Regions from separate parts of the Homo sapiens genome. Here regions 2 and 3 are each linked to region 1. The links come from fine-mapping of genetic effects on gene expression. A gene starts in region 1. Each other region holds a variant in brackets. All regions are shown on one strand. Distances are from middle to middle.

The links.
Region 2: its variant is fine-mapped to the expression of TNNT1 in lung (TOPMed, PIP above 0.99).
Region 3: its variant is fine-mapped to the expression of TNNT1 in whole blood (INTERVAL, PIP above 0.99).

The regions. Positions count from the first base shown.
Region 1 is chr19:55,144,937-55,153,091 of GRCh38, forward strand. TNNT1 (troponin T1, slow skeletal type) reads right to left here and starts at 4,270. Exons shown (of 14, transcript NM_003283.6): 1 at 4,225-4,270; 2 at 2,190-2,232; 3 at 2,072-2,085; 4 at 1,745-1,771; 5 at 1,498-1,530; 6 at 608-629. The coding sequence starts at 2,221. It overlaps TNNI3 (troponin I3, cardiac type), which reads right to left. Exons shown (of 8, transcript NM_000363.5): 8 at 6,831-6,981. The coding sequence ends at 6,898.
Region 2 is chr19:55,122,546-55,130,720 of GRCh38, forward strand. MIR7975 (microRNA 7975) reads right to left here and starts at 747; the gene lies at 680-747. The variant C/G (reference allele first, on the strand shown) is at 4,171.
Region 3 is chr19:55,200,831-55,209,005 of GRCh38, forward strand. PTPRH (protein tyrosine phosphatase receptor type H) reads right to left here. Exons shown (of 20, transcript NM_002842.5): 2 at 6,336-6,369; 3 at 5,859-6,125; 4 at 4,496-4,762; 5 at 2,952-3,218; 6 at 1,226-1,492. Among named protein-coding and RNA genes, the nearest start is that of PTPRH, 4.6 kb to the right of the region's middle. The variant C/T (reference allele first, on the strand shown) is at 4,919.

The DNA of each region.
Region 1 (8,155 bases):
CCAGAGAGGAGGCTGGGGTGATGGTAAAGGCGCGAGGGGAAGAGGGACCACTGGGTGGAAAGAAGGAAACAGACTGGCTGGGCATGGTGGCTTGCGCCTGTAATCCCAGCACTTTGGGAGGCCAAGGTGGGAGAACTGCTTGAGGATAGGAGTTCAAGACCAGCCTAAGCAACATAGCAAGACCTCATCTCTACAAAAAGAAAAAAAAAAAAAAAAACCAGGTGTGGTGGCACATGCCTGTGGTCCCAGCTACTCAGGAGGCTGAGATGGGAGGATTGCTTGAGCCCAAGATGTTGAGGCAGTGGGCCAGGATTGGGTCACTGCACTCTAGCCTGGGTAACAGGGTGGAGACTATGACCACGATGAAGAAGAAGGGGAAGGAGAAGGAGAAGGGGAAGGGGAAGAAGAGGAAGTGGAGGAGGAGGAGGGAGGAGGAGGGAGAGGAGGGAGGAGGGAAAGGGGGAGGGAGGAGGAGGAGGAGGAGAAATGTCGACTGCTGTTTCAATTTCCTCCCTCCATCTCTGCCTTTCTCACACCTTGTCTCTGGGGGTAGAGGGAATATTTAGGAAGATGTATGACTGGGGCCCCCCACCCTGTAGGATCTCACCTTGGTTTGGGGCGTTCCTCTTCTGTTGGTGGTGGGGGATAAAAAGAGATAATTAGCAAGAGTTTAGAGGAGAGGGGCTAGGCCTGACACACCCTGGGGAGGGACCCCCCAAGCCTCGGCCCCCAGGACCCCAGGGAAGGACTCTGGAGTCCAGTTCTGGAGGAGGGGGGATGGGGAGAAGAAAAGAGGGAAGGAAAGTCAGGGTGGCTGTAAAGGAGGAAGAGGGTCACACGCATCAGATATACATTCAGAACTGGTGTGGGGACCCCCCACCCCCACTGTCTGCACACCCAGGAGTGCAAACCCCCAGACCTTTCTCTATTTATATGCCCAGAGCTCCTGCTCTCCTCCATTAGGACCCAGCAGTGCAGGGGGTCCCAACCTCTGTCTTCATTCAGTGACCCCAGCGCTCTCTCCCCAGCTCGCCCCCTGCCCACCGCCCCACCGCCCCCCCGCCCCCGGCCCGACCTTGGAGACCCTGACTCCCAGCGCTCGCCTCCTCTGCAATCCTAAATTCCAAGCCCCAACCTTTGAATGTATATGGGGGAGAAAATAACAGACAAGGTTGGAGGCGAAGATAAGGGGGGATGGGGTGGTGCTTCTCCGCAAACATCCAACCCTTCTGTAAAGATTCCTCCAGACTGGGGAAGAAGGCTTGGGTGTCGGTCCCTTTAAGAAGGAAGGGAAAGGGTTAAAGCCACTGCGGGGCCATTTCCCTTCCCGGCCCCGAGAGGGCGCAGGAGCTCTCAGGGGCTTAAAGGACCGGGCCTGGGGGCGGGTTATGGGGGCGGAGGGAGGGAAGGGTGGTCTTGGAGGTTGGGGCCCGAGGATATCGGGGGTCCCCCCGGGCCCCCGACATCGGTCTCGGGAAGCGAAGCAGCCGCGGTTACCTGGCTCTGCCACCGGCTCCGGCTCTTCGGGGGCTGGGGAGGGGAGGGAGGAGCAGCGAGGGTTTGGGGAGCGAGGGGGGAGCGGCCACGCCCGGGCGCGGGAGGGGAGAGAGGGAAGAGACGTGAGAGGCTGTTAGAGGACCGGGAGCCGAGGCCGTCGGGAGCCCCATCCCGCCCCCTCCTCCCGGGCCCAGCGTCCCCGCCCCCCCACCCCCCAGCTCCAGACCTGCGGAGTCCGGGACCTCACCTTCCTCCTCCTCCTCCGCAGCCTCCTCTGGAGATGGGGGCACAGAAGAGAAGGCGTTAGGAGCTGGGGGAGGGATGGGGGCGGTGGCCAGAGACCAGGGTTCCAGTCTCTGCTGGACGGGGGTCCCTCTGGCCTCGGCTGCGATGGGCACGTTCCCCCTGGCGGTGCAGGGATGGCGCGAGGAGACGCTCCAGACCCGGAGAGGGCGGGCGAGGGCCCGAGGGCTGAGCCGCCCCTTCCCCGCCAAAGTGCCACACTCCTCGCCTCCCCTCCCAAGAGCTCCTGGGCGTGTCCCCATCCCATAGGGCCGGCCCACTCCCTACTCACCTTCCGGCTGCTCCCTGCGGACGGGTGTGGGGAGAGAGGAGGGAGGGGAGAGTTAGACCTGGGGTGGGAGAGCCTCTCCACCACTGCACGCCCCAACCCCTCCCAGTGCAGCACTCACTCCTCATATTCCTGCTCCTCGGTGTCCGACATCCTGGTGCGGCCTAAGGACCAGAGAGAAGAGGCCCAGTGGGGTGGGGCCCCAAGGAGGGGGCGACCTAGACTCCTGGGTGTGAGGGAGGAGGGGCTGGGGGCCTGGACTCCTGGGTCTGGACTCCTGGGTGTGAGAGAGGAGGAGCTGGGGTCTGGACTCCTGGGTGTGAGAGAGGAGGAGCTGGGGCCTGGACTCCTGGGTCTGAGGAAGGAGGGGCTGGGGGCCTGGACTCCTGGGTCTGAGGGAGGAGGGGCTGGGGTCTGGACTCCTGGGTCTGAGGGAGGAGGAGCTGGGGCCTGGACTCCTGGGTCTGAGGAAGGAGGGGCTGGGGCCTGGACTTCTGGGTCTGAGGGAGGAGGGACTGGGGTCCTGAACTCCTGGATCTGAGGGAGGAGGGGCTGGGGGCCGGATTCCTGGGTCTGAGGGAGGAGGGGCTGGGGGGTGTGTGGGAGGGTGGGTGTGGACTCCTGAGACTGAGATGGGTTGTCCTGGACACCTGGGTCTGAGGGAGGAGGGGCTGGGGTCTGGACTCCTGGATCTGAGGGAGGAGGGGCCAGGGGCCTGGACGCCTGGGTCTGAGGGAGGAGGGGCCGCGGGCCTGGACGCCTGGGTCTGAGGGAGGAGGGTCTGGGGGCCTGGCCTCCTGGGTCTGAGGGAGGAGGAGCTGGGGCCTGGACTCCTGGATCTAAGGGAGGAGAGGCTGGGAGTCTAGACTCCTGAGTCTGAGGGAGGAGCGGGCTGGGGGCCTGTACTCCTGCGTCTGAGGGAGGAGGGCTCAGGTCTGGACTCTTGGGTCTGAGGGAGGGGGCCGGCTGTCCTAAAGCATGCATGAGGACAGACCTTGGTAGGTGTGGTCCTGGCACAGCCAGGAGGCTGCAGACCCTGCCCCCTCAGCACAGCTGTCCTCTTTTGTCTTATGACAAGTCCATGGGAACCTGATCCAGTTGGGATTAGGAAGAGGCATTTGAGAAGGGACAGTGGCCTGAAGACAATAGCTGCCCCACCCCCAGGAGCTATTTTGGGGGGATGTCATAGATGGTGAAACCGAGGACATTTCCTAAGAAGGGATTTGAGGAAGGGGGGCTTCTGGGAGAATTAGTCACCCGCATCCCCTCTCCCACTCGCCCCACCCCACTGGCTGGTTTCCTCCCCACCTGTCTCCCCTTTCACCTTCCCATACATCACGTAGGGGGCAGGGGCATAAAGGGCACCTTCTGTCCGTAGACCTCACCCTGACCCCTACATTCTTAGACCTCAAAGTCTTTGAGACACCCTAGGCCACAGGGTGCCTAGCCCCAAATCCCAATACCCACAGATTCTGAGACCCCGATTTATGATGCCCGTGTTTCTGAGGCCAGCAAGTCCTCACAGCTCTGGATTCTGAAATCCCAGTTCTTGATAGTCCAGATATGGGCCGGGACATCCTAAGACCACCCCCAGGTCTTGAGACCTCCTAAAATCTGAAACCTCAAGAATATGAGACCCCCAAAATCTTGATACCCAAACTCGGAGGCCCAGTTCATGATACCCCAGATAATGGCACTCTAAGTTTTCATGCTTTCTATCATAATGTCTCAGATTCCGAGCCCTCCACTACCAAAACCCCAATTTCTTCTGAGACCCCCCCAATTCCTGATACCCTCAGAGTCTGAGGCCCCAAATCCTGACACCCAGATTGTTTGACCTCCAAGTCCAGATATCCCTGACTGCTGAGATTTCCCCCAGATTCCCAGAACCCCAAGATCCTAGGAGGTTTTATTCTGGGACATCCAAGTCCTGGCAGCCCCGGGTTAGGATTTGTGTAACCCACAAATCCTAGTATTTTCCCCTCTATCCTGAGTCCCCCTAAAGTCTGAGCCTCTCAAGTTCCCAGACCTCCAGTTGTATGCCCCACCTACCTCTGCACCATTTCTCCACACCCGACATCTTCCCCACCTGCCTCCTGCCCCCTCCCCCAAGGACATGGTTTTTGAAGACCACAGGGCTCCGCAGAGCCCCTTACCTAGGCTGTGTCTGAGATGCTGTGAATCTTGAGGCTGAGCCTTGCTGAGGGCACTGAAGCTCCGGGGAGTTTATAGCTGGAGGCTCGGGCCCGCCCCGAGGGGAGAGGGAGGGGGAGAGAATTCCTTTGCTCAAACACAAGCCTGGGAGTTCAGAGACAGCCCTGCTGCCCCTGGCTCCACACTCAGAGTCCAGAAGCCTCCGTGGGCCCCTCCCCAACCCCATGCCAACCCCATCTGCATGGCCCAGGAGCCCCGCCCCTGCTCCCACCCCACACCCCAGGCTCCCGTGGTGCTCCAACTACCTCCCTTATAGCTCCCTGTGCTTTGACGTCCCCATGCCCGGCACACAGTAGGTCCTTGGAGGACCTACTAATGACACATGGGCTATAAGGAATGTTTCCTGTTTTCTTCTCTCTGTTCCCTCTTTCTATCTAGGTCTCTTTCTGGACCCCCATTTCTGTTGTCTCTGTGGCTCTCCATCTGTGTGTCTCTGTGTGTCTGTCTCTACTTCTTAGTCTCCTCCTCTGTCTCTGTCCATCTTTTTGTCTCCTCCTCCCACCCCCACCCCTTTGTCTGCCGCCAGGATTCCATCCTGGTGACAACAGGCACTAAAGCCGGGAAGCAGGTGTGGGGAGGGGGAGGGGGAGGGTGGGGTGTCAATTAGGGTGAAACCTACCCTCCCTCCCCACCTCCATCTAACGCTGATCTTTTTTGGTATCCCCCTCCCGCTTCCCAGCCAAGCCATGACCTTGAGTTCTAGGTTCAAGCCAGCCCTGGAGAGCAGGCTTCCTCACCCTCCCCGCCTCTCCGTACCTCTGTCTCTGGTGGTCTCGGTCTTTGTGTTTCTGTGCATTTCTCGGGGCCCCTTGCTGGGTCTGTCTTGGGCTCTCTCTGCATCTGTCGCTTTCTGAGCCCCTCAGTGTGTTTCTCGGCATGTGTCTCCGGGTGGTTTTGTCTCTGCATTTCTGTGGGTGTCTCTGCATGTCTGCCCCTCTCAGCGTTTGTGTCTGTGGGGGCTCACAGTCTCTCTGTGCATTTCTGTCCACCTATGACCCCATTTCTGTCTCTTTTTGGCTCTGGGTCTCTGTGTCTGTGTTCACGTCTCTATCTTTCTAGTTCTCTCCATGTCTCTCTTAGTGCCCGCAGTTCCCCCTCTGTGGCTCTCCATTTCCATCTCTTATAGGGTCTCCATGTCTCTGCACCTTGCTGTGAGTATATCTCTGTCTCTCTTTTCTCCTTTCTTTGCACTTCCTTCTATGCATCTTGTGGTATTTTCTCCCTCTCTCTTTGGGTCTTTGCCTGGCTCCTACTCTCTCTACTCCCAACTCAGTCTCTCTGTTGTCGGTCATGTCTCTCTGCCTGTCTGTTTCTCTGTGTCTCTCTCTCTTTGACCTTTAGTCTTGGCATCTCTGTGCACTCCACATGGGCCAGAGGAGCTGTGACAATAGAGATCAGAAGACTGATGGAATGAACTGTTTGTGGCAATAAGATACCAAATTATAAACAAGACCTAAGGCCATGCCAGGCAAGGGTTAAGCCACGCATCCCTACACTTATATAATCGACTATGTTCCAACTGCCACAAGGCTTTTCCTTTTTCTAGCAGCTAAACAAGCACCGGCCTCAAGATAAGCAATATTACAACCATTGCAGCCATCCATTGCCAGATGCTGACTAGCTGAACCCCCTGTTCCACAAGGCATAACTACAGCATTAGTTGAACAAGAGACTGATTTCAGTAACTTTCTCCTGATAAGATGCCGCAGACCACGGACTGGTTCTGGCTGTTGACAGAGGCTGTGCACTGAGTGTCTTCATATCCCTGCTTCGTGTTTCGATACGAATGCATTCAATGGAATGCACTTAAATGTTAAGCCTCCACCACCAAGTGAAGGTGGGATGCATGTAAAATGTGTTTGCGGCCAGTCGCGGTGGCTCACGCCTGTAATCCCAGCACTTTGGGAGGCCAAGGAGGGCGGATCACGAGGTCAGGAAATCGAGACCAGCCTGGCCAACATGGTGAAACCCCGTCTCTACGAAAAACACAAAAATTAGCTGGGCGTGGTGGTGCATGCCTGTAATCCCAGCTACTGGAGAGGCTGAGGCAGGAGAATGGCTTGAACCCAGGACGCAGAGGTTGCAGTGAGCTGAGATCGTGCCACTGCACTCCAGCCTGGGTGACAGAGCAAGACTCCGTCTCAAAAAAAAAAAAAAATGAGTGTTTGCTTGTCACACATGCGTGTGTCCATGTGTCCACCTGTCCATGAATATTCATAGCTCCTTCTATAACCAGTTGAATACGTGCACTTAGCTAACCCACTCAGCATAAATTCCTGCCTTGCCCTTCCCTCCCTTAAAGTGCCTGCTTTTGTTTTTTGGCAAGAAGCCATGCTTCTGGTCTTCAGGTTGTGATCCGCTTCTTAAGAAACAAAGCTCCGCTCTCCAAATTCATGAACCCCGGGATTCTTTTCAATAACACAGCCAAGAGTGCTTCACATGGGAGACCCATCTGGTCCCCAACCTGCTGTGTGGCTTTGGGGGAGCCCCACCTGCAGTCTTCCCATCTGTCTCCTGCCTAAGCCCTGGGTAATAGACATGGAGTCACTTTCAGCTCAGAGAGAAGCTTTATTCCTCAGGGCCCTCCTCAGGGCAGGGGCAGTAGGCAGGAAGGCTCAGCTCTCAAACTTTTTCTTGCGGCCCTCCATTCCACTCAGTGCATCGATGTTCTTGCGCCAGTCTCCCACCTCCCGGTTTTCCTGGAGGATGGCGATGAGTCAGAGGTTAGGGTCTCTTCTTGGTCTCCAGTCTCTCAAGAATCCCTGTCTTCCCTCCAGCCTGTGGGGCCACTCTACCCTGGATGCCTAAGTATCTAGTTCTGGAGCACTTCCTGTCTTTTCAAGATAATCCCTGCCAATTTTCCCCATGCACTTCCTGTCTCCCTCATGCACTTCCTGTCCCCCTCATGCACTTCCTGTCTTTCCCCAGCACTTCCTGTCTCCCTCATGTACTTTCTGTCTTTCCCCATCCACTTCCTGTCTCCCTCATGCACTTCCTGTCTTTCCCCTCCACTTCCTGTCTCCTTCCTGCACTTCCTATCTTTCCCCTCCACTTCCTGTCTGCCTTATGCCCTTCCTGTCTCCTTCCTTCTCTTCTTATTATAGTAGTCCCTCCTTTTCTGCAATTTTACTTTGTGTGGTTTCAGTTACCTGAGGTAAACCATGGCCCAAAAATATTAAATGGAAAATTCCAGAAATAAACAATTCATAAGTTTGATGGATTCTCAGGTCAATAGTAGCCTAACGCCAGGTCATAATGCCTATGTCATCCACCTCACCTCATCTCAGCACATAGGCACTGTCATTTTACATCACAAGGAAAAGAAGGGTGATTACAGTGCTATAAGATATTTTGAGAAAGAGACCACATTCATGAGTTTTATTACAATCTGTTATAATTGTTCTATTTTATTATTATTATTATTTGAGACAGGGTCTGGCTGCCTCATCCAAGCTGGAGTGCAGTCGTGCAATCTCGGCTCACTGCAGCCTCAACTTCCTGGGCTCAAGCCATCCTCTCACCTCAGACTCCTGAGGAGCTGGGACCACAGGTGTGTGCCACCATGCCCAGCTAACTTTTGTTCTGTTTTGTTTTGTTTTGAGATGGAGTCTCCCAGTGTTGCCTGGGCTGGAGTGCAGTGGTGAGATCTCGGCTCACTGCAACCTCTGCCTCCCGGGTTCAAGCAATTCTCCTGCCTCAGCTTCACAAGTAGCTGGGATTACAGGCACCCACGACCACGCCCAGCAAATGTTTGTATTTTTACTACAGGTGGGGTTTCACTGTGTTGGCCAGGCTGGTCTCAAACTCCTGACCTCATGATCCGCCCGCCTTGGCCTCCCAAAGCGCTGGGATTACAGGCACGAGCCACCACAC
Region 2 (8,175 bases), 22 kb before region 1:
CACCTGGGGTAACTTTTTATGCCACAAAAGCAAACTGATGCAAGGCATTCCAAGAGGCCTTTGAGCCTCTTGCAAGTCAAGCTGATTGCAAGACACTCTGCCTTTGATAAAATGTAGTGGACAGAGAAGCAGTGGTTTCAGTGGCAGAGATGACAAATTGTTGCCCAATATTCGTTGTCCCCTTCTTTCTCAACAAAATGGAACCTCTGATTATGCTGGGTTTAGCATAGCCATCTAGAATAATGGTTACATATCCCAGTGTCGGGCCTCCGAGCCCAAGCTAAGCCATCATATCCCCTGTGGGCCTGCACATATACATGAAGATGGCCTGAAGCAACTGAAGATCCAAAAAAGAAGCGAAAATAGTCTTACCTGATGACATTCTACCATTGTGATTTGTTCCCGCCCCACCCTAACTGATACGATATATTCTGCCTGGTCCTTAAGAAGGTACTTTGTAATATTCTCCCCCGCCTTTAAGAAGGTACTTTGTAATATTCTCCCTGCCCTTGAGAATGTACTTTGTACGCCCATCCCAAACCTATAAGAACTAATGATAATCCCACCTTTGCTGACTCTGTTTTCGGACTCAGCCCACCTGCACCCAGGTGAAATAAATAGCCTTTTTGCTCACACAAAGCCTGTTTGGTGGTCTCTTCACACGGACGTGCGTGACATTTGGTGCCGTGACTAGGATCAGGGGACCTCCCTTGGGAGATAAATCCCCTGTCCTCCTGCTCTTTGCACCGTGAGAAGGATCCACCTATGACCTCGGGTCCTCAGACCAACCAGTCCAAGGAATATTTCACCAATTTTAAATTGGGTAAGCAGTCTCTTTTTACTCTCTTCTACAACCTCTCTCACTATCCCTCAACCTCTTTCTCCTTTGAATCTTGGCGCCACCCTTCAGTCTCTCCCTTCTCTTAATTTCAGTTCCTTTCCTTTTCTGGTAGAGACAGAGGAGACGTGTTTTATACGTGAACCCAAAACCCCAGCGCTGGTCACGGACTCGGGAAGACAGTCTTCCCTTGGTGTTTAATCACTGCGGGGACGCCTGCTTGATTATTCACCCACGTTTCAGAGGTGTCTGATCACCACGGGGACGCTTGCCTTGATCCTTCACCCTTAGTGGCAAGCACCACTTTCCTGGGGGGCAAGCACCCCCCACCCCTTCTCTCCATGTCTCTACTCTCTCTTTTCTCTGGGCTTGCCTCCTTCACTATAGGCAACCTTCCACCGTCCGACCCTCCTTCTCCCTTAGCCTGTGTTCTCAAGAACTTAAAACCTCTTCAACTCACACCTGACCTAAAACCTAAACACCTTATTTTCTTCTGCAATGCTGCTTAACCCCAATACAAACTCGACAATGGTTCTAAATAGCCAGAAAACGGCAATTTTGATTTTTCCATCCTACAAGATCTAGATAATTCTTGTCGTAAAATGGGCCAAAGGTCTGAGGTACCTGATATCCAGGCATTCTTTTACACATTGGTCCCTCCCTAGTCTCTGTTCCTAATGCGACTTGTCCCAAATCCTCCTTCTTTCCCTCCTGCCTGTCCCCTCAGTCTCAACCCCAAGCGTCACTGAGTCTTTTCAATCTTCCTTTTCTACCGACCCATCTGACCTCTCCCCTCTTCCCCAGGCTGCTCCTCCTCAGGTCGCTCCCCACCAGGCTGAATCAGGCTCCAATTCTTCCTCAGCCTCCTCTCCCCCGCCCTATAATCCTTCCATCACCTCCTCTCCCCACACCCGATCCAGCTTACAGTTTTCTTCTGCAGCTAGCCCTCCCCCACCTGCCCAGCAATTTCCTCTGAAAGAGGTGGCTGGAGCCAAAGGCATAGTCAAGGTTAATGCTCCTTTTCCTTTATCCGACCTCTCCCAGATCAGTTAGTGTTTAGGCTCTTTTTCATCAAATATAAAAACCCCGCCCAGTTCATGGCTCGTTTGGCAGCACCCCTGAGGCCCTTTACAGCCCTAGACCCTGAAGGGTCAGAAGGCCTCTTATTCTCAATATGCATTTTATTACCCAATCTGCTCCTGACATTAAATAAAGCTCCAAAACCCCCACAACAGGACTTAATTAACCTCGCCTTCAAGGTGTACATTAATAGAGTAGAGGCAGCTGCATAGCAACATATTTCTGAGTTGCAATTCCTTGCCTCCATTGTGAGAGAAACCCCAGCCACATCTCCAGCACACAAGAACTTCAAAATGCCTACGCCGCAGTGGTCTAGCATTCCTACAGGACCTCCTCCATCAGGATCTTGCTTCAAGTGCCAGAAATCTGGCCACTGGGCCAAGGAATGCCTGCAGCCCGGGATTCCTCCTAAGCTGTGTCCCATCTGTGCAGGACCCCACTGGAAATTGGACTGTCCAACTTGTCCGGCAGCCACTCCCAAAGCCCCTGGAACTCCGGCCCAAGGCCCTCTGACTGACTCCTTCCCAGATCTTCTTGGCTTAGCGGCTGAAGACTGACACTGCCCCATCACCTCGGAAGCCTCCTGGACCATCACAGATGCTCTGGGCAACTCTTACAGTGGAGGGCAAGTCTGTCCCCTTCTTAATCAATACGGAGGCTACCCACTCCACATTACCTTCTTTTCAAGGGCCTGTTTCCCTTGCCTCCATAACTGTTGTGGGTATTGACGGCCAGGCTTCTAAACCTCTTAAAACCCCCCAACTCTGGTGCCAACTTGGACAACACTCTTTTATGCACTTCTTTTTAGTTATCCCCACCTGCCCAGTTCCCTTATTAGGTCAAGACATTATAACCAAATTATCTGCTTCCCTGATCATTCCTGGGCTACAGCCACACCTCATTGCCACCCTTTTCCCCAGTTCAAAGCCTCCTTCACATCCTCCCCTTGTATCTCCCCACCTTAATCCGCAAGTATGGGATACCTCTACTCCCTCCTTGGTGACCGATCATGCACCCCTTACCATCCCATTAAAACCTAATCACCCTTACCCCACTCAACACCAATATCCCATCCCACAGCACGCTTTAAAAAGGTTAGGCCGGGCGAGGTGGCTCACGCCTGTAATCCCAGCACTTTGGGAGGCCGAGGCGGGCAGATCACGAGGTCAGGAGATCGAGACCATCCTGGCTAACATGGTGAAACCCCGTCTCTACTGAAAATACAAAAAATCAACCGGGTTTGGTGGCGGGCGCCTGTAGCCCCAGCTACTCGGGAGGCTGAGGCAGGAGAATGGCGTGAACCTGGGAGGCAGAGCTTGCAGTGAGCCAAGATCGTGCCACTGCACTCCAGCCTGGGCGACAGAGCAAGACTCCATCTCAAAAAAAAAAAAAAAAAAAAAAGGTTAAAGCCTGTTATCACCCACCTGTTACAACATGGTCTCTTGAAGCCTACAAATTCTCCTTACAACTCCCCTATCCTACCCATCCAAAACCAGACAAGTCTTACAGGTTAGTTCAGGATCTGTGCCTTATCAACCACATTGTCTTGCCTATCCACCCCATGGTGCCAAACCCGTATACTCTCCTATCCTCAATACCTCCCTCCACAACCCATTATTCTGTTCTAGATAAACCTAGCTGACCCCATAAATCCTAAATCCTTTCCCCACTCCCCTTTCCATTCCTTAAAAAACAGCCCTGGCCGGGCACAGTGGTTCACACCTGTAATCCCAGCACTTTGGGAGGCCGAGGCAGGTGGATCACAAGGTCAGGAGATCGAGACCATCCTGGCTAACATGGTGAAACCCCATCTCTACTAAAAATACAAAAAATTAGCCGGGGGTGGTGGCGGGTGCCTGTAGTCCCAGCTACTCAGGAGGCTAAGGCAGGAGAATGACATGAACCTGGGAAGCGGAGCTTGCAGTGAGCCGAGATCGCGCCACTGCACTCCAGCCTGGGCAACAGAGTGAGAGACTCTGTCTCAAAAAAAAACAAAACGAAACAAAAAAACAAAAAAAAACAGCCCTAAAAGCTGCTCCCACACTAGCTGTCCCTAACTCATCCCAACCCTTTTCATCACACGCAGCTGAAGTACAGGGCTGTGCTCTCAGAATTCTTACACAAGAGCCAGGACCGCGCCCTATAGCCTTTCTGTCCAAACAACTTGACCTTACTGTTTTAGCCTAGCCCTCATGCCTGTGTGTGGTGGCTGCCGCTGCTTTAATACTTTTAGAGGCCCTCAAAATCACAAA[C/G]TATGCTCAACTCACTCTCTACAGTTCTCATAACTTTCAAAATCTATTTTCTTCCTCATACCTGATGCATATACTTTCTGCTCCCCGGCTCCTTCAGCTGTACTCACTCTTTGTTGAGTCTCCCACAATCACCATTGTTCCTGGCCCGGACTTCAATCCGGCCTCCCACATTATTCTGGATACCACACCTGACCCTCATGACTATCTCTCTGATCCACCTGACATTCACCCCATTTCCCCATATTTCCTTCTTTCCTGTTCCTCAGCCTGATCACACTTGGTTTATTGATGGCAGTTCCACCAGGCCTAATCGCCACACACCAGCAAAGGCAGGCTATGCTATAGTATCTTCCACATCTATCATTGAGGATACTGCTTTGCCTCCCTCCACTACCTCTCAGCAAGCTGAACTCATTGCCTTAACTCAGGCCCTCACTCTTGCAAAAGGACTACGCGTCAATATTTATACTGACTCTAAATATGCCTTTCATATTCTGCCCCACCATGCAGTTATATAGGCTGAAGGAGGTTTCCTCACTACGCAGGTGTCCTCCATCTTTAATGCCTCCTTAATAAAAACTCTTCTCAAGGCCACTTCTCTTCCAAAGGAAGCTGGAGTCATTCACTGCAAGGGCCATCAAAAGGCATCAGATCCCATTGCTCAGGACAACGCTTATGCTGATAAGGTAGCTAAAGAAGCAGCTAGCTTTCCAACTTCTGCCCCTCACGGCCAGTTTTTCTCCTTCACATCGGTCACTCCCACCTACTCCCCCACTGAAACTGCCACCTATCAATCTCTTCCCACACAAGGCAAATAGTTTTTAGACCAAGGAAAATATCTCCTTCCAGCCTCACAGGCCCATTCTATTCTGTCGTCACTTCATAGCCTCTTCCATGTAGGTTACAAGCCGCTAGCCCATCTCTTAGAACCTCTCATTTCCTTTCCTTCGTGGACATCTATCCTCAAGGAAACCACTTCTCAGTGTTCCATCTGCTATTCTACTACCCCTCAGGGATTGCTCAGGTCCCCTCCCTTCCCTACACATCAGGCTCGGGGATTTGCCCCCGCCCAGGACTGGCAAATTGACTTCACTCACATGCCCTGAGTCAGGAAACTAAAATACCTCTTGGTCTGGGTAGACACTTTCACTGGATGGGTAGAGGCCTTTCCCACAGGGTCTGAGAAGGTCACCACAGTCATTTCTTCCCTTCTGTCAGACATAATTCCACGGTTTGGCCTTCCCACCTCTATACAGTCTGATAACGGACCAGCCTTTATTAGTCAAATCACCCAAGCAGTCTCTCAGGCTCTCGGTATTTAGTGGCTCCTGGTTTTACCTCAAATCGCCTTAAGTCTCTCTTGAAGTGGATAGATCTTCAGTGGCAAGGTACCCTCCAATACTTTCACCCTGATGAAGTCCTATTCTTTACTTCTATGCTCACTGTTATTCTGGTTCCCATTCTTTTTTTTTTTTTGAGACAGAGTCTTGCTCTGTTGCCCAGGCTGGAGTGCAGTGGCGCGATCTCGGCTCACTGCAAGCTCCGACTCCTGGGTTCACACCATTCTCCTGCCTCAGCCTCCGGAGCAGCTGGGACCACAGGCGCCCGCCACCACACCCAGCTAATTTTTTGTATTTTTAGTAGAGATGGGGTTTCACTGTGTTAGCCAGGATGGTCTCAATCTCCTGACCTCGTGATCCGCCCGCCTCAGCCTCCCAAAGTGCTGGGATTACAGGGGTGAGCCACCACGCCCGGCCTTGGTTCCCATTCTTATGCCATCCTCTACCTCTCCCCAGCTATCTCCACCACACTATCAATCTCACTCTCTCCCAGCCATTTCTAATCCTCCTTTAACAAACAATTACTGGCTTTGCATTTCTCTTTCCTCCAAAATTGCCAAGGCCTCGACTTACTCACTGCTAAAAAAAAAAAGGACTCTGTATATTTTTAAATGAAGAGTGTTGTTTTTACCTAAATCAATCTGGCCTGGTATATGACAACACAAAAAAACTCAAAGATAGAGCCCCAAAACTCACCAGCCAAGCAAGTAATTATGCTGAACCCCCTTGGACACTCTCTAATTGGATGTCCTGGGTCCTCCGAATTCTTAGTCCTTTAATACCTGCTTTTCTCCTTCTCTTATTTGGACCTTGTGTCTTCTGTTTAGTTTCTCAATTTATACAAAACCGCATCCAGGCCATCACCAGTAATTCTAGAAGGACAAATGCTCCTTCTAACAACCCCCAGTATCACCCCTTACCCCAAAATCTTTCTTCAGTTTAATCTCTCCCACTCTAGGTTCCCACGCTGCCCCAATCCCACTCGAAGCAGCCCTGAGAAACATCGTCCGTTATCTCTCCATACCACCCCCAAAAATTTTCACCGCCCGAACACTTCACCACTATTTTGTTTTGTTTTTCTTATTAATATAAGACAGGAATATCAGGCCTCTGAGCCTAAGCTAAGCCATCATATCCCCTGTGACCTGCACGTACACATCCAGATGGCCTGAAGCAACCGAAGATCCACAAAAGAAGTGAAAATAGCCTTAACTGATGACATTCCACCACTGTGATTTGTTCCTGCCCCACTAACTGATACCATATATTCTGCCCCACCCTTAAGAAGGTACTTTGTAATATTCTCCCCGCCCTTGAATGTACTTTGTACGCCCATCTCAAACCTGTAAGAACTAATGATAATCCCACCATCCTTTGCTGACTCCCTTTTCAGACTCAGCCCACCTGCACCCAGGTGAAATAAACAGCCTTGTTGCTCACACAAAGCCTGTTTGGTGGTCTCTTCCCACAGACGCACGGGACACCAGCATCCCTACCAACTGGGTATGATAATGTAATTAACTTCTGTCAATGAGACTGAGTAGGAGTAAACATGTCTCCTTCCATTTTACCCCAGTCTGCGGTCTGAAACAGAGTGGGAACTATCTTACCCTATGGGCAAAGGCAACCCCCTGGGGAAAGGAGCTACACAGTAGGATGAGCTTGGACCCAGGCAATGTTACAAAACAGAGCCATCATCCCAACTCAGACTTTTACATGTGAAAGAAATCAACTATTGTCAGCCAGGCAAAGTGGCTCACACCTGCAATCCCAGCATTTTGAAAGGCTGAAGCGGGAAGACTGCTTGAGCCCAGGAGGTTGAGGCCGCAGTGAGCTGTGATTGCACCACTGCACTCTAGCCTGGGTGACAGAGGGAGACCCTGTCTCAAAAAAAGAAGAAGGCCGGGCACGGTGGCTCACGCCTGTAATCCCAGCACTTTGGGAGGATGAGGTGGGAGGATCACGATATCAGGAGATCAAGACCATCCTGGCCAACATGGTGAAACCCCGTCTCTACTAAAAATACAAAAAAAAAAAAAAATTAGCTGGGTGTGTTGGCACGGGCCTGTAATCCCAGGTACTTGGGAGGCTGAGGCAGGAGAATCGCTTGAACCAGGGAGTGGGAGCTTGCAGTGAGCTGAGATTGCGCCACTGCACTCCAACCTGGTGACAGAGCGAGACTCCATCTCAAAAAAAAAAAAAAAGAAAAAGAAAAAGAAATTAAAACAAAAAAAGAAAGAAAGAAAAAGAAAATCAACTGTTGTGTTGGTCCATTTGGGCTGCTGTAACAGAACACCGTAGACCTGGTCATTTACAAACAATACAAATGTATTGCTCACAGGTCTGTAGGCTGGAAAGACCAGGATCAGGGCGCCAGAAGACTCAGTGTGGAGGGAGGGCCTGCTCTCTGCTTCACAGATGGTGCCTTCTTGCTGTGTCCTCACACAGCCAAAGGGGCAAGGGGCTCTCCCTCAAGCCTCTTTTATAAGGACATTAACCCCATTTGTGAGGGCTCTGCCTTCATGACCTAGTCACCTCCTAAAGTCCCGTGGAATACTATTGCATTCATGATCAGGTTTCAACATGTAAATTTTGAGGGGATACATACATTCAAAGCATAGCAACTGTCTGGTTATTTGGGATTTAGGGCCCAGTGGCCAGACCC
Region 3 (8,175 bases), 56 kb after region 1:
TACTCGGGAGGCTGAGGCAGGAGAATGGCGTGAACCCGGGAGGCGGAGCTTGCAGTGAGCCGAGATCGCGCCACTGCACTCCAGCCTGGGCGACACAGCGAGACTCCGTCTCAAAACAAACAAAAAAAACAAACAAAAAAAACAAAATAAAAATCTCCAATGGAATAGCATTAAGAGGTAGGGCCCTTGCAAGATTAGGTCATAAAGGTGAAGCCTTTATGCCTGGGGTTACTGCCTAAGAGAGGCCCAATGGCCCAGCACAGTTTCACATTTCATGTGAGATTACATGCCTGTAATCTCAGCAATTTGTGGGGCTGAGGTAGGGAGATTGCTTGAGGCCAGGAGTTAGAGACCAGCCTGGACCACACAGCAAGACCTCATCTCTAAAAAAAATAAATTAGTCAGGCATGGTGGCCCACGCCTGTAGTCCCTGCTACTTGGGAGGCTGAGGTCGGCGGATTGCTTCAGCCCAGGAATTTGAGGCTGCAGCGAGCTACGATCCTGCCACTGCACTCCAGCCTGGATGACAAAGCGAGACTCCAGCTCTAAAAAAAAGAAAAAAATAAGAGAGACTCAAGGGAGCTTTGTGTGGTGATGAAGACAGTCTCTCACTTTCCAATATGGTAGGCATTAGCACCGTGGAGGATGAAGGGGGGACTGGGAGCCCCTCAACAGGCCTTTTGAGCACATGAAATGTGAAACTGAATTTGCAGTTTCATGCAACTTTAATGAGTTTAAATTTAATAGCCACGTGTGGCTAGTGGCTACCATATTGGACAATGGAGGTGTAGACACAGGGAGCTGTCCACATCAGGGTCATGGAGCTGATGATCTGAGTTTCCATCCTCAATATGTGACACAGTTGGGAACTAGAAGAAGAGTCAGAGGGTCAGAGTGTCCCCACTCACAGTATCTAATTCCTTGAAAGCTCAGGTAACATGCCTTGGCCCCTACACATTCCTCTTGGTGCAGGAAGGTGCCCCTTGGCATTATGGTCCACATTCTAGAGAGTCCTAGACACAGACTGGCCCCAACTTAGCAGCTGGAGGTACCATGGACATTCATTCCTTCTTCATCTCCTGAGCTGAGACTGCCCCAGGATGTGGACATGAGTACCTGGCTCAATATGGCCCAGAGGGACTATGGAATAGACAATCGTCTACATTCTACTGCTTACTGTCCCTTAAACAAATAAGAGATCAAACAAATGGCGACTGCCTCTCACCTGTGGTGGCATTTCGAGTCTCCCGGGAGCTGTTGATTCCATTCTTCCCCACCCACACGGAAAACACATACAAACACCCGGGTTCAAGTCTATCCACGGTGATGTTGGTGTGTGCTGTGCTTCGAGTCCCTGCTCTGCCACCATCTCCAGTGTACTCAACCCCGTAGGTGGAGTTCTGTGGGTCTGGGCCATCGGGGACCTCCCAGGTCAGGGCGATGGAGCTGTTGGTCTGAGCCTCCACTGTCAGGTTTCTCACTGGGTTGGGAGCTGAAAACCAGCACAGGAGGGAAAATCAGTTGTAGTTTCTGGCCCTCAAACTTTCCAGCCCTTCCTTAACCATTGCATCCAGCAGGTGGAGGCAGGGAGGCCCAGTTCTGCACTGTCCAGTGTGGCAGCCACGAGTTCCACGTGAGTGTTGAGCACCGTGAGGTGGCTTTTGTGAAATGAGATGAGCCGTTAGTGTAAGATCCACACCGGCTTTCGAAGAGTTCGTATGAAATTAAGAATTAAGAATGTCAACTATCTGATTGATCCTATACACACACACACACACACATATATATACACATACACATATATATACACACACATATATATACATACACATATATATATATATTTTGTGGGTATATACTCAGTGTGTATATTTAATGATCCTTTCCTTATATTGATTACATGTCAAAATGATAATATTTTGTATCTGCCAGGCGCAGTGGCTCACACCTGTAATCCCAGCACTTTGGGAGGCTGAGGTAGGCGGATCACCTGAGGTCAGGAGCTCAAGACCAGCCTGGCCAACATGGCGAAACCCCGTCTCTACTAAAAATACAAAAGTTAGCCAGGTATGGTGGCATATGCCTGTAGTCCCAGCTACTCAGGAGGCTGAGGCAGGAGAATACTTGAACCCAGGAGGTGGAGGTTGCAGTGAGTCAAGATCATGCCACTACATTTCAGCCTGGGAGACAGAGACTCTGTCCCAAAAAAAAAAAAGGGCTGGGCACGGTGGCTCACGCCTGTAATCCCAGCACTTTGGGAGGCCAAGGCGGGTGGATCACAAGGTCAGGAGATCGAGACCATCCTGGCTAACACGGTGAAACCCGTCTCTACTAAAAATACAAAAAATTAGCCAGGTGTGGCGGTGTGCGCCTGTAGTCCCAGCTACTCGGGAGGCTGAGGCAGGAGGATGGCCTGAACCCGGGAGGCAGAGCTTGCAGTGAGCCAAGATTGCGCCACTGCACTCCAGCCTGGGCGACAGAGGGAGACTCTGTCTCAAAAAAAAAAAAAAAAAAATTGTATCTGATGGGCTACATAAAATATCTCATAGTAATTTAGTTTCTTTCTTTCCTTCCTTCCTTCCTTCCTTCCTTCTTTCTTTTTTGAGACAGGGTTTCTCTCTGTTGCCCAGGCTGGAGTGCAGCAGTCCAATCAGAGCTCACTGCAACCTCTGCCTCCCGGGCTCAAGCGATCCTCTCACCTCAGCCTCCCGAGTAGGTGGGACCACGGGAACACGCCACCACAGCTACTTTTTTATTTTTTTTGTAGAGACAGGCTGACCAGTTTCTTTGTACTTATTTTTATGTGGCTGATAGAAAATTGAAATTCTCACCTGTGGCTTCCACTGTGTTTCTATTGGACTAAAGAACCTGTCACATTTTGTCAGCTCCCAACCACCCCCTACCACTGTCCTTATAAAAGAAATAAAAATAAAACAGCGGCTGCCTCTTACCTGTGGCACTAGTGACAATCTCCACAGAGCTATTTACTCCGTCTTTCTCCACCCACACAGAACACGTATACAATGACCCGGGTCCAAGGCCATCCACGGTGACTCTGGTGTCTGTTGTGTTTCGAGTCTCTGTTCTGCCACCATCTCCAGTGCACTGAACGCAGTAGGTCGAGTTCTGTGGGTCTGTGCCATCGGGGACCTCCCAGCTCAGGGAGATGGAGCTGGTGGTCTGAGCCTCCACTCTCAGGTTCCTCACTGGGTTGTGAGCTGAGAAATTAGGAAGAAAGATCTAATATGAGCAGGACTACAGAACATAACGGGGGCAGCCAGTGAGCTTTTTGTTTGTTTGTTTTTTCGAGACAGAGTCTCTGTCTGTCATCCAGGCTGGAGTGCAGTGGCACGATCTCGGCTCACCACAGCCTCCGCCGTCCGGGTTCAAGCGATTCTCCTGCCTCAGCCTCCCGAGTAGGTGGGACTACAGGTCTGCACCACCACACCCGGCTTATTTTTATATTTTTTCACCATGCTGGCCAGGCTGGTCTCGAACTCCTGACCTCAGGTGATCCTCCCACCTCGGCCTCCCAAAGTGCTGGGACTACAGGCGTGAGGCAACATGCCTGGCCAAGTGGGCATTTTTGATCATCAGAGTTCCTAGTTGTCCCTCAACAGCTGGTGCCAGTAGATGCAGAGTTTATGGTCTAGACCAGGGCTTCTCATTCTTTGCTGTGTGCACATCTCACAGGGGACCTTGTGAAATGCAGGTTCTCACTCAGCAGGGCTAGGATGGAGCTGAGAGACTGCACTCCCCCCCACCCTTTTTCTCCCCCACCAGTGTCACTTGCCAATGTATTTCCATCAGCTCTCAGAGACCCGGATGCTGCCCACACATGGACCACACTTTGAGTAACAAAGACCTGAGCCAGCGCTTTCCAACTGAGCTTCTGCAACGATGGAAATGCTCTCCCACCTTCCAGTATGGTAGGAGAACAGAGAAGGAAATGGAAGCCCTTCAACAGGGCTTTCAAACATATGAAATGTGAAACTGAATTTGCAGTTTCATGCAACTTTAACGAGCTTAAATTTAATAGCCATGTGTGGCTGGTGGCTACCATATCGGACAATGGAGATCTAGCCAGAGGGAGCTCTCCACATCAGGATCATGGAGCTGATGATCTGAGTTTCCATCCTCAATATGTGACGCAGCTGGGGACTAGAAGAAGAGTCAGAGGGTCAGAGTGTCCCCACTCACAGTATCTAATTCCTTGAAAGCTCAGGTAACATGCCTTGGCCCCTACACATTCCTCTTGGTGCAGGAAGGTACATTCTAGAGAGTCCTAGACACAGACCGGCCCCAGCTTAGCAGCTGGAGGTACCATGGACATTCATTCCTTCTTCATCTCCTGAGCTGAGACTGCCCCAGGATGTGGACATGAGTACCTGGCTCAATGTGGCCCAGAGGGACTATGGAATAGAAATCCGCTACGTTCTCCTGCCTACTGCCCCTTAAACAAGTAAGAGCAAAACAAATGGCGACTGCCTCTCACCTGTGGTGGCATTTCGAGTCTCCCGGGAGCTGTTGATTCCATTCTTTCCCACCCACATGGAAAACGCATACAAACACCCGGGTTCAAGTCCATCCACGGTGATGTTAGTGTGTGCTGTGCTTCGAGTCCCTGCTCTGCCACCATCTCCAGTGTACTCAACCCCGTAGGTGGAGTTCTGTGGGTCTGGGCCGTCGGGGACCTCCCAGGTCAGGGCGATGGAGCTGTTGGTCTGAGCCTCCACTCTCAGGTTCCTCACTGGGTTGGGAGCTGAAAACCAGCACAGGAGGGAAAATCAGTTGTAGTTTCTGGCCCTCAAACTTTCCAGCCCTTCCTTAACCGTTGCATCCAGCAGGTAGAGGCAGGGAGGCCCAGCTCTGCACTGTCCAGTGTGGCAGCCACGAGTTCCACGTGAGTGTTGAGCAC[C/T]GTGAGGTGGCTTTTGTGAAATGAGATGAGCCGTTAGTGGAAGATCCACACCGGCTTTCGAAGAGTTCGTATGAAATTAAGAATGTCAACTGTCTCATTGATCCTTTATATATATTTGTGTGTGTGTGAGTATATACTTGGTGTATATATTGAATGATCGTTTTTATATTGATTACAAGTCAAAATGAAAATACCTTGTATCTGCCAGGTGCAGTGGCTCACACCTGTAATCCCCGCACTTTGGGAGGCCGAGGCAGGCGGATCACCTGAGGTCAGGAGTTCGAGACCAGCCTGGCCAACATGGCGAAACCCAGTCTCTACTAAAAATACAAAAGTTAGTTGGGCATGGTGGCACATGCCTGTAGTCTCTGCTACTCGGGAGGCTGAGGCAGGAGAATCACTTGAACCCAGGAGGCAAAGGTTGCAGTGAACCAAGATCATGCCACTGCACTCCAACCTGGGCGACAGAGCAAGACTCTGCCTCAAAAAAAAAAAAAATTGTATCTGATGGACTACATAAAATCTCTCATAGTAATTTAGTTTGTTTTTCTTTTCTTTTGTTTTCTTTTGTTTTCTTTTCTTTTTTTTTTTTTGAGACAGGGTTTCTCTCTGTTGCCCAGGCTGGAGTGCAGCGGTCCAATCAGAGCTCACTGCAACCTCTGCCTCCCGGGCTCAAGCGATCCTCTCACCTCAGCCTCCCGAGTAGATGGGACCACGGGAACACGCCACCACAGCTACTTTTTAATTTTTTTGTAGAGACAGGCTGACCAGTTTCTTTTTACTTATTTTTATGTGGCTGATAGAAAATTGAAATTCTCACGTGTGGCTTCCACTGTGTTTCTATCCAACTAAAGAACCTGTCGCATTTTGTCAGCTCTCAACCACCCCCTACCACTGTCCTTATAAAAGAAATAAAAATAAAGCAGTGGCTGCCTCTTACCTGTGGCAGTAGTGACAGTCCCCACAGAGCTATTTACTCCGTCTTTCTCCACCCACACAGAACACGTATACAATGACCCGGGTCCAAGGCCATCCACGGTGACGTTGGTGGCTGTTGTGTTTCGAGTCTCTGTTGTGCCGCCGTCTCCAGTACACTGAACCCAGTAGTTGGAGTTCTGTGAGTCTAGGCCATCGGGGACCTCCCAGCTCAGGGAGATGGAGCTGGTGGTCTGAGTCTCCACTGTCAGGTTCCTCCCTGGGTTGGGGGCTGAGAATTGGGAAGGAAGGTCTGACAAAAAGGGAACCAGGTCAGTACAATCCCTCCCAACCCCTGAGCTCACGCCCCAAGTCCAGAAACAACGGCGCTCATAAACCCCTACCATGGACCACTGGACCCCACGGGGACCCCCCAGAGGCTCACGGCAGTTGCGGTCCCACCTCTTCGAGTGGGCAGTGAGTTCAGGCAGGGGTCACTCACCAGGCGCCCTGGCCCCTGTCCAGCTGCACAGGCCCTGGAGGGAACCCAGAGAAAACGGAGTCAGCCTCTCAACCACTCCTCCGCCCAGTGAGGCCGAGGGGCTGGGAGGAGCGGCTGGTCCCCGCCCCATGAGTCACCCTTGCATGGGAAGGAGGGGCCGGTGTTAGGCTGGGCTGTCACGACCTCGACCGTCTTTCCTGGGTCGAGGAGAGAAGGGGGAGCATGGCAGGAGCAGAGCTTAGGGAGCTGGGGTTGGCTCCACCCGATAAGGCTGAGAGATAAAATTAATGATTTCATTTCCTGAAATATATGTCCTTGGAAAACCGAGGGCAGAGAGCAATGAACAGACTGGGAAGGGAGAAAAAAACCAAGGTTGGGGATCAGGAACCTTGGCCTGAGGGTGGAGGGCCTGGGGGCCTGGGGGCCTGGGTCTGAGGGAGGAGGGGCTGGGGGTCTCGACCTCTGGTTTGAGGGAGGAGAGGTTGGGGGCCTGGACTCCTGAGTCTGAGGGAGGAGGGGCTGGGGTCTGGACTCCTGGGTCTGAGGGAGGAGGGGCTGGGGGTCTCGACCTCTGGTTTGAGGGAGGAGAGGTTGGGGGCCTGGACTCCTGAGTCTGAGGGAGGAGGGGCTGGGGGTCTGGATTCCTGGGTCTGAGGGAGGAGGGGCTGGGGGTCTCGACCTCTGGTTTGAGGGAGGAGAGGTTGGGGGCCTGGACTCCTGAGTCTGAGGGAGGAGGGGCTGGGGTCTGGACTCCTGGGTCTGAGGGAGTAGGGGCTGGGGGTCTGGATTCCTGGGTCTGAGGGAGGAGGGGCTGGGGGTCTGGACTCCTGGGTCTGAGGGAGGAGGGGCTGGGGGTCTCGACCTCTGGTTTGAGGGAGGAGAGGTTGGGGGCCTGGACTCCTGAGTCTGAGGGAGGAGGGGCTGGGGTCTGGACTCCTGGGTCTGAGGGAGGAGGGCCTGGGGGCCTGGGGGCCTGGGTCTGAGGGAGGAGGGGCTGGGGGTCTCGACCTCTGGTTTGAGGGAGGAGAGGTTGGGGGCCTGGACTCCTGAGTCTGAGGGAGGAGGGGCTGGGGTCTGGACTCCTGGGTCTGAGGGAGGAGGGGCTGGGGGTCTGGATTCCTGGGTCTGAGGGAGGAGGGGCTGGGGGTCTGGACTCCTGGGTCTGAGGGAGGAGGGGCTGGGGGTCTCGACCTCTGGTTTGAGGGAGGAGAGGTTGGGGGCCTGGACTCCTGAGTCTGAGGGAGGAGGGGCTGGGGTCTGGACTCCTGGGTCTGAGGGAGGAGGGGCTGGGGGTCTGGACTCCTGGGCCTGAAGGAGGAGGGACTGGGGGTCTGGACCCCTGAGTCTGAGGGAAGAGGGGCTGGGGGTCTGGACTCCTGAGTCTGAGGGAGGAGGGGTTGGGGGCCTGGACTCTTGGTTTGAGGGAGGAAGGGCTGGGGGCCTGGACTCCCGGGTCTGAGGGAGGAGGGGCTGGGGTCTGGACTCCTGGGTCTGAGGGAGGAGGGGCTGGGGGCCTGGACTCCTGAGTCTGAGGGAGGAGGGGCTGGGGTCTGGACTCCTGGGTCTGAGGGAGGAGGGGCTGGGGGTCTGGACTCCTGGGCCTGAAGGAGGAGGGACTGGGGGTCTGGACCCCTGAGTCTGAGGGAAGAGGGGCTGGGGGTCTGGACTCCTGAGTCTGAGGGAGGAGGGGTTGGGGGCCTGGACTCTTGGTTTGAGGGAGGAAGGGCTGGGGGCCTGGACTCCCGGGTCTGAGGGAGGAGGGGCTGGGGTCTGGACTCCTGGGTCTGAGGGAGGAGGGGCTGGGGGCCTGGACTCCTGGGTCTGAGGGAGGAGGGGCTGG